Linked DNA regions of Homo sapiens. The protein of the gene in region 3 interacts with the protein of the main gene of each other region in a biochemical or structural test. Each region holds a gene or a part of one and is shown on either strand. Other genes may lie near its edges. The genes, in order: UBE2W, CSNK1A1 and MAPT.

Region 1 (3,651 bases), on a different chromosome or scaffold from region 3:
TTACAAATGCTGTAACTTACAGAAATATTAAAGAAGAAATTCAACATAATGTTTAAGTTTGATATTTGATTTAGAATTAAATATTAAGGAAAGAGTTTAGAGAACACATTTTTGACTTGGTTTCATGCTTACAGAAATATTATTTTCCTCTGGTGAAAAATCTGTAAGCTCCCAGAGTAAGCCTTCCCCCAATATCTCCCTAGTCAAAAGCTTTTGAATTGGTGTGAAATATTCTTCCTTCCCATACCATCATTGAACTTAGTTGAAGGTAGACAAATAGGCTGATGATGAAAACAGACTGAGATCCTGTTGTCTCCACACATTTACAGTCAGAAATGATGCTGGCCAGCCAGAAAGCAACAAAAGTGATGACAATCTTCTGGAGAGAAGATGTTTGTTCTTTTTATTATAGTCTACAAATGCTTATTGTAGACATCTAGAGGTCACAATAGCACATACCCTTTCACTTTAACTTTTATGAAAATGATAAAAATAAGTCCTAAAAGTCTTGGTAGTTTTCTGCTCATATGAAAATTTTAGAACTTAAGGAGTCAGTATCCATTTAAATCTATGCTTTAAAACAATTATCTCTTTACTTATAGCATGATACAATAACTGACTTTATCTCTTCTCTTACATAACTAAGAAAAGATTAAGCTGTGTTTGGTATATTGTTTAAAGTGACAATGAAATATGATTTTCCTCCAAATAGTACATTTCAGCACCCAACAAGCAAAATTTTCAGTATCTGGGAAATATTTCAGGTATTTGGTTGTATTTTCCAGAATAGCTCATTTGCTAGCAATACTAGAGAGAGCTGGCATCATGTCTTACCATTTTAGCCAACGGATCTCACAAGCCTCAAATTTTAAAAATGAAGTGCTTTGTTATAATTCTCTGAAGAATAAGTAATTATAGTAACTCATTTACTTATCTTACCAAGCCAGAAACCTGGAAGTCATCCTAGAGTCTTCCTTTCTCTAACCTGATTAATCATTTACTATAGTTAAATAGCTCTCAAAAAACATTTCTCTACCACCATTATCCCTTGTCTAAGTATTAAGCTATTAACTAAACTCACTGGGCATCAAATTATAATAATCAGACTTTGTGCTGATGTTTAGATATTTAACATCTGATGATGTACTCTGCCCTTCCTGTACTAAAAGGCTGCAAGGACAGCATGTCAATGCAAAATCATAGTACTCCTTCCAACAGAGAACTTTTCTCTTCACCATGTGATTCTACCATCTGACCTAGGAGAAGTGCCTCCAGTTATTCCAAAATGTCAACTTCTCCGATGGCCTAGAGCAGTGGTCCCCAATCTTTTTGACACAAGGGACCGGTGTGATGGAAGACAATTTTTCCATGGATGGGGTTGGGGATTGGATGATGGTTTTGGGATGGAACTGTTCCATCTCAGATCATCAGGCATTAGATTCTCATAAAGAGCGTGCTATCTAGATCCCTCACATGTGCAGTTCACAATAAGGCTCGTACTCCTATGAGAATCTAATGCCATCGCTGATCTGACAGGAGGCAGAGCTCAGGCAGTAATGCTGCTCACCTCCTGTGTGGCCCGACTCCTAACAGGCCATGGACCAGTACTAGTCCACAGCATGGGGGTTGGGGACCCCTGGCCTAGAGGCCTGGTTAGATTTCTATTCCCTTTTCTGTTAGCATTTATGGATAAGCAACAAATGAAACAATTTTAGAAGCAAAATGCAGTAAAGCCCTAATCCCAATAAAGTGTAATGTTCATATCTTGATTATATGACAAATAAGATAATGAAATAACAAATCCATCTACATACGTATAACTGATTTATATGTTTTTACTGAGTCAAACATCTCTGGCATTTAGCTATCTAAAAATACAAAAAAAAAAATTTAAAGCAAGGCAATTACCTGAGGAGAGTCAAAAGGATATCGACTACTAAATTTAAATAGAAGTTGAAATTTTTCCCCTTCATATAAGGTACCTGGTGCACCTTCCATGTCTACAATCCACCTAGAATAGAAAAGGCAAATTAAAAACTTAAGATAATAGAGACTGGGGTAAGGAGGAGAAAAGAGGACACCAAGTACTTCCTATACACTAAGCACTAGGACAAGAGTTGGTTATGTGTAACAGCACATGCCAGCCTCCCAATAACTCTCTTACTGTTAATTCTCATGACCTATCCCCTTCTCTGACACTCAGCGGTGAAATAACCAGATCAAGGTCAGACAGCTAGCAAAAGACAGAGCCAGGTCTAAAAAAGCAAACTAAATAAAACCCAAGGCCGGGTGTGGTGGCTCACACCTGTAATCCCAGAACTTTGGGAGGCCAAGACAGGCAGATCACGAGGTCAGGAGTTTAAGACCAGCCTGACCAACATGGTGAAACCGGTCTCTACTAAAAATACAAAAATTAGCCGGGCATGGTGGTGTGCACCTGTAATCCCAGCTACTCAGGAGGCTGAGGCAGGAGAATCGCTTGAACCCGGGAGGCAGAGGTTGCAGTGAGCCAAGATCATGCCACTGCACTCCAGCCTGGGCTACAGGGCAAGACTGTCTCAAAATAAACAAACAAACAGACCTCAAACTAAGGTGCACTGACACCAAAGCCTGTGCTCCTCCTAATTGATTTATACTACCTTATTTTTTCAAAGTACCATTTCTACAATGCTGATATTACGTATTCTATACATAACATCAAACAAAGCAACTGCCTCTGATTATTACTGGTGGAAGCCATGGAGAAATACGTATAGACAATGACCACAGAGAACCGTAGCTGTCAGACTTATTTTTTTCATCAACATCCTAGAGAAGATTAACAGGGCAAGGGGAGCTAAATTGACATCAGTCCACTTACTCTGATGATTAAGCAAGGCTTTGTGGTGACTTTCCTTTATCTCTCACTATGTTTCAATTGTTTAATAAAGCCCATTTCTATGCCATCTATGCAAGCCTTTGTTTTCATATATAACAATCATAAACATAAATGTGTTATTTACAGTTTATATACTATTCTTGTTATTTTCTTTAAGATGGGAAGAATAAGGGATAATGACAGCAAAGATAACAGGGCAGCATTAGAAGCAAAAGTGAATTGAAGTCATTAACAATGTGTTCCTAATTATAGCTCTGTCACTTATAATTCTTGTACACCTGGGCAATTCTCTTGAACTTTTCAGTTATTAAACTTTCTTGTATTTAAAATACAAGAAAACAAAAGGAAGATAGAAAATACAGTGTTGGGATTCTAGTCATCACCACGCATACTATGAACCTTGGATTATGTAAAATAATAAATGTACCTATTCTCTAAAAGAAATCAGCTACAGTATACAGACTCTTAAGAGCATGGCTATTCATTTTAAGAATGCACGCTGAGTACCATACATGGTAATAAAAGATACGACCACAGACCCAAGAGACAATATTTTATAGTGAAATTAGACAGTTATAACTGAAGTTATACTGAAGTCGCAGTTATAGTTAATCTTAACTCATTGTGTGAACAAGTTATGTTATCTCTCCAGTTTTAACTACCTCAATAATAAAACAGAAGATAATCACCTCATAGTGTTGTTGGAAAGATAAATGACCCTACATACGTAAAAAACCTAGCACATTCCTGACTCAGTCAATACATGGTAAATT
Region 2 (3,651 bases), on a different chromosome or scaffold from region 3:
GTAGTAGTTAAGCTTTTGGGGAGTCAAGTTATACTTGGGGCCAGGTGCAGTGGTCCATGCCTGTAATCCCAGCACTTTGGCGGGCCGAGGTGGGTGGATCATCTGAGGTCAGGAGTTTGAGACTAGCCTGGCCATCACTGTGAAACCCCGTCTCTACTAAAAATACAAAAATTAGCTGGGTGTGGCGGCGCGCCTGTAATCCCATGAACCTGGGAGGCAGAGGTTGCAGTGAGCCAAGATCACACCATTGCACTCCAGCCTGGGTGACAGAGCAAGACTCCATCTCAAAAAAAAAAAAAAAGTTACACTTGGATTCCTGACTGTGGGGCACAGTGGGAGTGGGCTGGGGTTCAGTGCCCCTAACCCCAGCACTGTTCAAGGGTCAACTGTAATTTTAAGTGAGCTCTCACATATTAATTGACAAGGTCCAAGAATTTTCTTTCTTTTTTTTTCCCCTGCCTCAGGTTTATTTGTACTAATAGCACAGGAGGACCCCAGCCCCATAAAGACGGCAGCCCAGGGGGGTTGCATCAGTCCTTCTGTCCTCACGTTGGCAGACAGAGATACCTACTCCGAAGCCTTTGTAGGGGCCTGAGAGCCTTTGGGAGGAGCCTGAGCTGGAACTGAAGCTGGAGCTGCAGCCTGGGCCTTGGTTGATCCTTGGCCTTTGGCCCACACAGTCTGAGCCCCTTGGCAATGCGGACACAAGCACACTTCCCAAGCTTGGGGTGGACAATGTAGGCAAGTCAATCGAGTTCGCAGCTGACACCCTTTGGGATCTTGGGCTTAACCTCCTTGGGCTTTACGAGGGCCCTGCTAGCCTCAGCAAGTGCACTCATTGCCTTGGCATTGTTGGCCTGCATCTTCTTTAGGCCCTTCTTGTGCTTCTTGGCAAAGTGCATGTTCCTCAGGAACCTGGAGCCCACCATTTCTGTGCCATTTTCAGGACTGGTTGTGTGTGGTGTGGTTCGTGGACTTGGCCATGTCTGTACCTTAAGCCGCGGCTCTCCAAGTGCCTAGAACCGGAAGCTTCATTTCTTAAAATATCAAGAAAATGGATGCCATTCTCTTATCCTTGCTTTTTTTTTTTTGATACGGAGCCTCATTCTGTCGCCCAGGCTGGAGTGCAGTGGCACGATCTTGGCTCACTGCAACCTCCGCCTCCCATGTTCAAGCAATTCTCCTGCCTCAGCCTCCTGAGTAGCTGGCACTACAGGCGCACGCCACCACACCAGGCTAATTTTTTTTTTTTTTGTATTTTAGTAGAGACAGGGTTTCACCTGTCTCTACTACCCAGGCTGGTCTCCAACTCCTGGGCTCAGGCAATCTGCCCACCTCGGCCTCCCAAAGTGCTGGGATTACAGGCGTGAGCCATGGCGCCCGGCTTATCCTTGCTCTTTACTCAGGATGCTATGCTTCTTAACAATAGGTCTCTCAAATTACACAGGAAGGACCTGATTCAGCAGGTCATCTACGCAGGCCAGGTAATTTTCAGTCTCTGTTGTAAGATATACCAAAGTATCTTAAAGAAAATCCTGGCTGGGTGCGGTGGCTCATGCCTGTAATCCAAGCACTTTGAGAGGCCGAGGCGAGCAGATCACGAGGTCAAGAGATGGAGACCATCCTGGCCAAAATGGTAAAGCCCCATCTCTATTAAAAATACAAAAATTAGCTGGGCGTGGCAGCACGTGCCTGTAGTCCCAGCTACTCAGGAGGCTAAGGCAGGAGAATTGCTTGAACCCAGGAGGTGGAGGCTGCAGTGAGCCAAGACTGTACCACTGCACTCCAGCCTGGTAACAGAGTGAGACTCCATGTCAAAAAAAAAAAAAGCAAATCCTATAGGGAATTTTGTAACAGAAAACATAGGGAAGGGATTGAACAAATTTGTATATGAAGGATAAAGGCAGCAAAATCTAAATTTTTTAAATTAGTGACAATACTTCTAAAACAATAGATAACACATAACTTTTATCTAGCTAACACTAAATAGTCAACTTAATTCAATACTTTCCGAGTAAATATTTATTAAGTATGTACCATGTATAGGTGATACAGAAATAGTGGGGAACAAACTGAGGGGGATGGGAAGATGCTGCTACCCAAATAAAGAATGTTTACATAAATCTTTATCCTTTTTGCTTCAGTGGAAACAGTTTTTTTTTTACATTTCACTTTAAAACCAATGAACCACTTTTGTTTCCATGTACCTGACCCTACCACTCCTAAAGCAAATTTACCCTTTCCACACTCTCATCCAATTACTGTGTTCTCCTTTAGAGACTACACCCAGAAGCCACACTCTATTCTTGGATGCCTTACCAAACCAGTTCACCAAGCTTTCTTCCTTAGAGCCAGATCCTGAAATCCCATCTCTCAGGAAGCCTTAACTTGAAAGTCAGGTTAATCTGTTTAGCCTCACCCACAGACAGCTTATAACTACCATAACTCTCTCTGCACTCACCACCTTATAATAGGCACCTATTACTATAATTCTGCTCAGAAGTTAATTTATTCATGTGCTTATTCAGTACATTACTCATTGCCCTTATGGGTCTGTATCAGGTCTTAAATAAAAGCTACCAGATAAAAGGACATGTACTGTACTTGGGTTTAGCACTGAAAAATGACAATGCTTAATGCTTTTTGAAACTGATTTCAAATACATTAAATTTAACCTGATTTGTGAAATTTATAAAATCTCCCAACATAGATGAATCTCAAAAACATTATGTTAAGTGAAAAGTGCCAGACACAAATGACCTCATATCGTATGATTCCATTTATATGAAATTCTAGGAAAAACTATAGTAATGGAAAGCAAATCAGGGGTGAGGGGCCTTATTTTCCCACATAGTAGGTTTTTTTTTTAAAGGCAAGAATGATTTAAAAACTTCAAATCTATATCATCTCAGATTTAATCTTCACCTCATAAGATAAATTTGCAACTTTCTTCCAAATGATTTACTTGCTCATTTACAACCAATAGCACATTTTATCACTCAATTCTCCATTAAAACTGTAAATCAGCATTGGAACTTTGTTTTTTTTTTTGTTGTGTTTTTTTGTGTTTTTTTGAGATGGCGTCTCGCTCTGTCACCAGGCTGGAGTGCAGTGGCGCCATCTCAGCTTACTGCAACCTCCGACTCCCGGGTTCAAGCTATTCTCCTGCTTCAGCCTCCCGAGTAGCTGGGATTACAGGCACGTGCCACCATGCTCAGCTAATTTTTGTATTTTTAGTAGAGACGAGGTTTCACCACGTTGGCCAGGCTGGTGTTGAACTCCTGACTTAAAGTAACCTGCCTGCCTTGGCCTCCCAAAGTGCTTGGATTACAGGCGTGAGCCACCACGCCTGGCTGGAACTCTTTTTAAGGACAGTTTTATTTGAGTTGTTTCCATGTAAAGACTATGCAACCCAGTCCTTAATTCAAGACATGAAAAATACAAACTGGAATAGAAAAAGGGGCTAACAGGCTGGGCCCGGTGGCTCACGCCTATAATCCCAGCACTTTGGGAGGCTGAGGCAGGTGGATCACCTGAGGTCAGGAGGTGGAGACCAGCCTGGCCAACACGGCAAAACCTCAGCTCTACTAAAAATACAAAAATTAGCCAGGCGTAGTAGTGCAGCTCTGCAATTCCAGCTACTTGGGAGGC
Region 3 (3,651 bases):
GTTGGCCAGGCTGGTCTCGAACTCCTAACCTCAAATGATCCACCTGCCTTGGCCTCCCAAAGTGCTGAGATTACAGGCGTGAGCCATCGCCCCCAGCCTCTGTCTTAACTTTTAAACACAGGCTTCTTTATAGCATTTCAAAGTTTTCCCTAAAAGTAAAATCTAATAAAAATTTAACAGATGCTTGCAACTGTGAGCTTCAGTAACATCCATTTCTGGGCTCTGCAAATAACTGTGAAATGCTAAGGGTCCCAAATTTATGAACAAGCTCGCCTTGTGGCTCTGAGGTCTCCTGTGGGACACCAACTCTCCTCTCCCTGATACTTGGGACTCTCCTCCCACCAATCCCTCCCTGCAGGGCTGCTGTGGTCGTGCTCCTGAGGGCTCAAGGTGGGCCCTGCTCAACCCCCTCCAATGCCAGCATGAGGATCCCCTTGTCCTCTGCAGAGGGAGGTGGTGGCATGTGGACCAGGGAGATCTTGTGTCTGCTCCTTGTCTTCCTGCCACAAGGCAGAGTGGGTGGGGGCAGGGCACTGGGCCAAAGGCACAGCATGAGCTCTGGGCCACCTCTGGATGCTGTGTGTGTCACCTGCTGTGTGTGCCCTGCACATCTCTGTGTTAGGCGTCCACACTCCAGCACCTCCTGGGAGGCGTTGTGGGATGCAGGACAGGCGTGTCTTTCAGAGACAACCTACCTGGATCCCAAACCTGGCTCTGTCACTTACTACTCATTGGCCTTCGGCAAGTTACTGTACTTCTCTGAGCCTCCGTTTCCTCATCTGCAAAGTGGGGCTGCTTATGCCTACATGGGAGGGTTGGAGAGTTCTAGACACCATGAGGGCACCCGTCATCCTGTCGGTGGAAGGCACCCACCAAACCTCCTGTGGGCTGATGGGCCGTTGTGGACAAATCAAGTGGCCAGAGAGTCAAACAAGGTGGGTAGCACGGAGCGGGGGTGCTGGTGACATGCAGAGTGGCGGGCAAGCGTGAGGGGCGCGTGCGGCCACAGCCTGAGCACGGGAGGAGGCCGAGGGAGTGGAGCAGCTGCACCCAGGTGTCGATTTAGTGGCGTCCTAGGAACGTCAGAAGCAGCAGGAGTCGGGAGGCCTGGAAGCTCAGTGGCAGTGCCCGCAGCCTGGGAGGCCTGGGAGGTCCCCAGGGAAGGAGCGAAGAAGCTCAAGACACAGACCTTTGAGTTGAGGGACCCGGCTGACGGGCTTCCCCCGCGGAGCAGCAGCAGGCTGCTTTTCAGAGGGCTCTGGAAGGTCAGCCTCTTTTGTGTCCTCTCCCAAAGAGGGGCCCCGGGCCTCTGGCCCCTCTCCAGGGGCCCCTGGAAATGCAGCCCTTCCCAAATGCTCCTCCGAGTGCGCCTGCTCCTTCTGCACGTTGGGTGTGATTTCCACGTGAAACGTGAACTCCAGGGGGGCATCCTGCCCTTTGGCCCGCCCTACACTGGGCCCGTCGGGCTCTGAGGCTGGGATCTCTGTGGAAACTTTGGAGAGGAAATCCACAGGGAGGGGGATGGCACCCTCCGCTGGGAAGCCTGGGATGCTGGTGGCTTCTCTGGCGGCTGTCTGGGGAGGCCGCCCATCTTGGGCTGGGGAGGCCTTGGAGGGAGGGGAGTCTTGGGGGGAGGACTCATCGACGTCGCGGTCTTCATCCACCTCCTCCTTGCTCCCCGGCCTCTCTTTGCCCCCTGCCCCCTTCAGCGGCGGCCCCTCCTGGTGCAGGTCTCCTAGAAGCTGGTGCTTGAGCAGCTCAGGGGCGTGGCGGCCGCCCTCTGTGTCCTCAGGTCCTGTCCCCGAAGGTTGGCGTGTGGCCTCTCTGGGGCCCTCAGGCAGGAGGGGAGCCCCAGGCATGCCGGACATGAGCTGGTGGCTCAGACCTGGGGGGCCTGGCTCTCGGAGGAAGCCTTCCTGGACCACCTTACCACTTTCAGGCTCTGTGTGGAGATACGCAGTGGTGGCGGGCTTCGGAAAGGCCGGACCCTTCTCGGCCCAGTCCCCGCCTTTTTGTCCCCACTCCAGGGAGGGCTCCTGAGGGCCTCCTGTTGGAGGAGGCGCTGGGCAAACGGGACGGTGCTGAGGAAGGCTCGCGGTCAGCGGGACGGGAGCTTCTGGCTCTTTCTCCCCGAGGCACGGCCCAGAGACCCCAGAGGCCTCTCCGCAGGGTCCAGGCTGGACGTGGGCGCTAATCTCATTGGCCAGGGGCCTTTCAGGCGCCTTCCTCTGCCGGCCCGGAACTCTCAACTCCTCTGGTTTGAAGAGGCAGCGATAGCAAAAGGTTAGCAAGGGCGCATTAATCGCTTAAGAGAGGGAGCATCATCCTGGACAAAATGACACTGAGAGGGCATCCCAGGCCCCCTAACAAAGAGATGGGAGCACAGCTCTGGGCTCGTCTCGTTGCCTTTGCTTGCTTGGAATGACAGCTCTCCTGGTCTAGCCGCCACCAGCTCGCTAGGTGGCTCTCCCCTCTCTGGGCCTCAGTTTCCTCATCTGTAAAGAGGGTTCTTGGACGTGGTGACCTCCGAGGGCCCTTCTGGTGTGGGTGTTATTCCTCTGCCTATGATGGGCTCTGGTTGGGCACAGAGCATGTCACACATCTGGAGCCGCCCTGGGCTTAATCTACTGGGAAAGCGGGAGGGCTACAGAAGCTTCTCCTGCTTTCTAGGGAATTTGAGCCTCCCAAAGATTCTAGCCTCTAGATGGTATCTGGTTTGGGTGTAGCGAGAATCCCCTTTCCTCTCCCTACCTCTCACTGTTCTCCTGCCCCCGCCCCCCACCCCTTTTTTTTGGTTTGAGACAGAGTCTCACTCTGTCGCCCAGGCTGGAGTACAGTGGCACGATCTCAGCTCACTGCAACCTCTGACTCCCTGGTTCAAGCGATTCTCCTGCCTCAGCCTCCCGAGTAACTGGGATTACAGGCACGTGCCACCACACCTGGCTAATTTTTGTATTTTTAGTAGAAACGGGGTTTCACCATGTTGGCCAGGATAGTCTTGATCTCCTGACCTCGTGATCTGCCCACCCCGGTCCCCAAAGTGCTGGGATTACAGGCATGAGTTTTTTTTTTCCTTTCTTTCTTTCTTTTTTTTTTTTTTTGAGACAGGGTCTCGTTCTGTCACCCAGGCTAGAGTGCAGTGGTGCAATCACAGCTCATTGCAACTTTAACTCCAGGGCTCAAACAACCCTCCCATCTCACCCTCCCAAGCAGCTGGGACCACAGATGCATGCCACCACGTCTGACTAAAATGTTATTTTTCATTTTTGTGGAGACGGGGTCTCCTTATGTTGCTCAGGCTGGTCTCGAACTCCTGGGCTCAAGCAATTCTCTTGCCTCTGGGATTACAGGGATGAGCCACCATACTTGACTTCTGCTCCCCTTTTTGGTAAATGAAACCAGTGAAACTAGTGCCCACAAACCCCGCCTCAAGCCCATTCTCTGACAGATTTGGAAAATCCAAAATGTGTGATCATCAAGAATGGAGTCTTTACTGAGAGACCTGCCATAAGACTCCTCGAAAAAGAAGCCCCATTCAGATCTATCCAGGTCACTGACCACAGACAAGCCCTTGGCACAGGTGAGGTAGGCCCCCGTGGGAGGAAGGGCTCTGCACGGCAGACAGTGACGGCCCTCAGGACCACTGCTGTC

Evidence for each region.
Region 1: the proteins of MAPT (region 3) and UBE2W are reported together in a solved structure, tested with the Homo sapiens proteins (2 studies listed by BioGRID, with this or other methods).
Region 2: of the proteins of MAPT (region 3) and CSNK1A1, one has a biochemical effect on the other in vitro, tested with the Homo sapiens proteins (2 studies listed by BioGRID).

What each region holds. Positions count from the first base shown.
Region 1 is NC_000008.11:73,823,239-73,826,889, forward strand, and holds part of UBE2W (ubiquitin-conjugating enzyme E2 W), read right to left. Parts: intron 2,012-3,651; coding exon 1,909-2,011; intron 1-1,908. UniProt on the Homo sapiens protein: Accepts ubiquitin from the E1 complex and catalyzes its covalent attachment to other proteins.
Region 2 is NC_000005.10:149,544,816-149,548,466, forward strand, and holds part of CSNK1A1 (casein kinase I isoform alpha), read right to left. Parts: intron 1,030-3,651; exon of another isoform or gene 455-1,029; intron 1-454.
Region 3 is NC_000017.11:45,981,469-45,985,119, reverse strand, and holds part of MAPT (microtubule-associated protein tau), read right to left. Parts: intron 2,255-3,651; coding exon 1,190-2,254; intron 1-1,189. UniProt on the Homo sapiens protein: Promotes microtubule assembly and stability, and might be involved in the establishment and maintenance of neuronal polarity.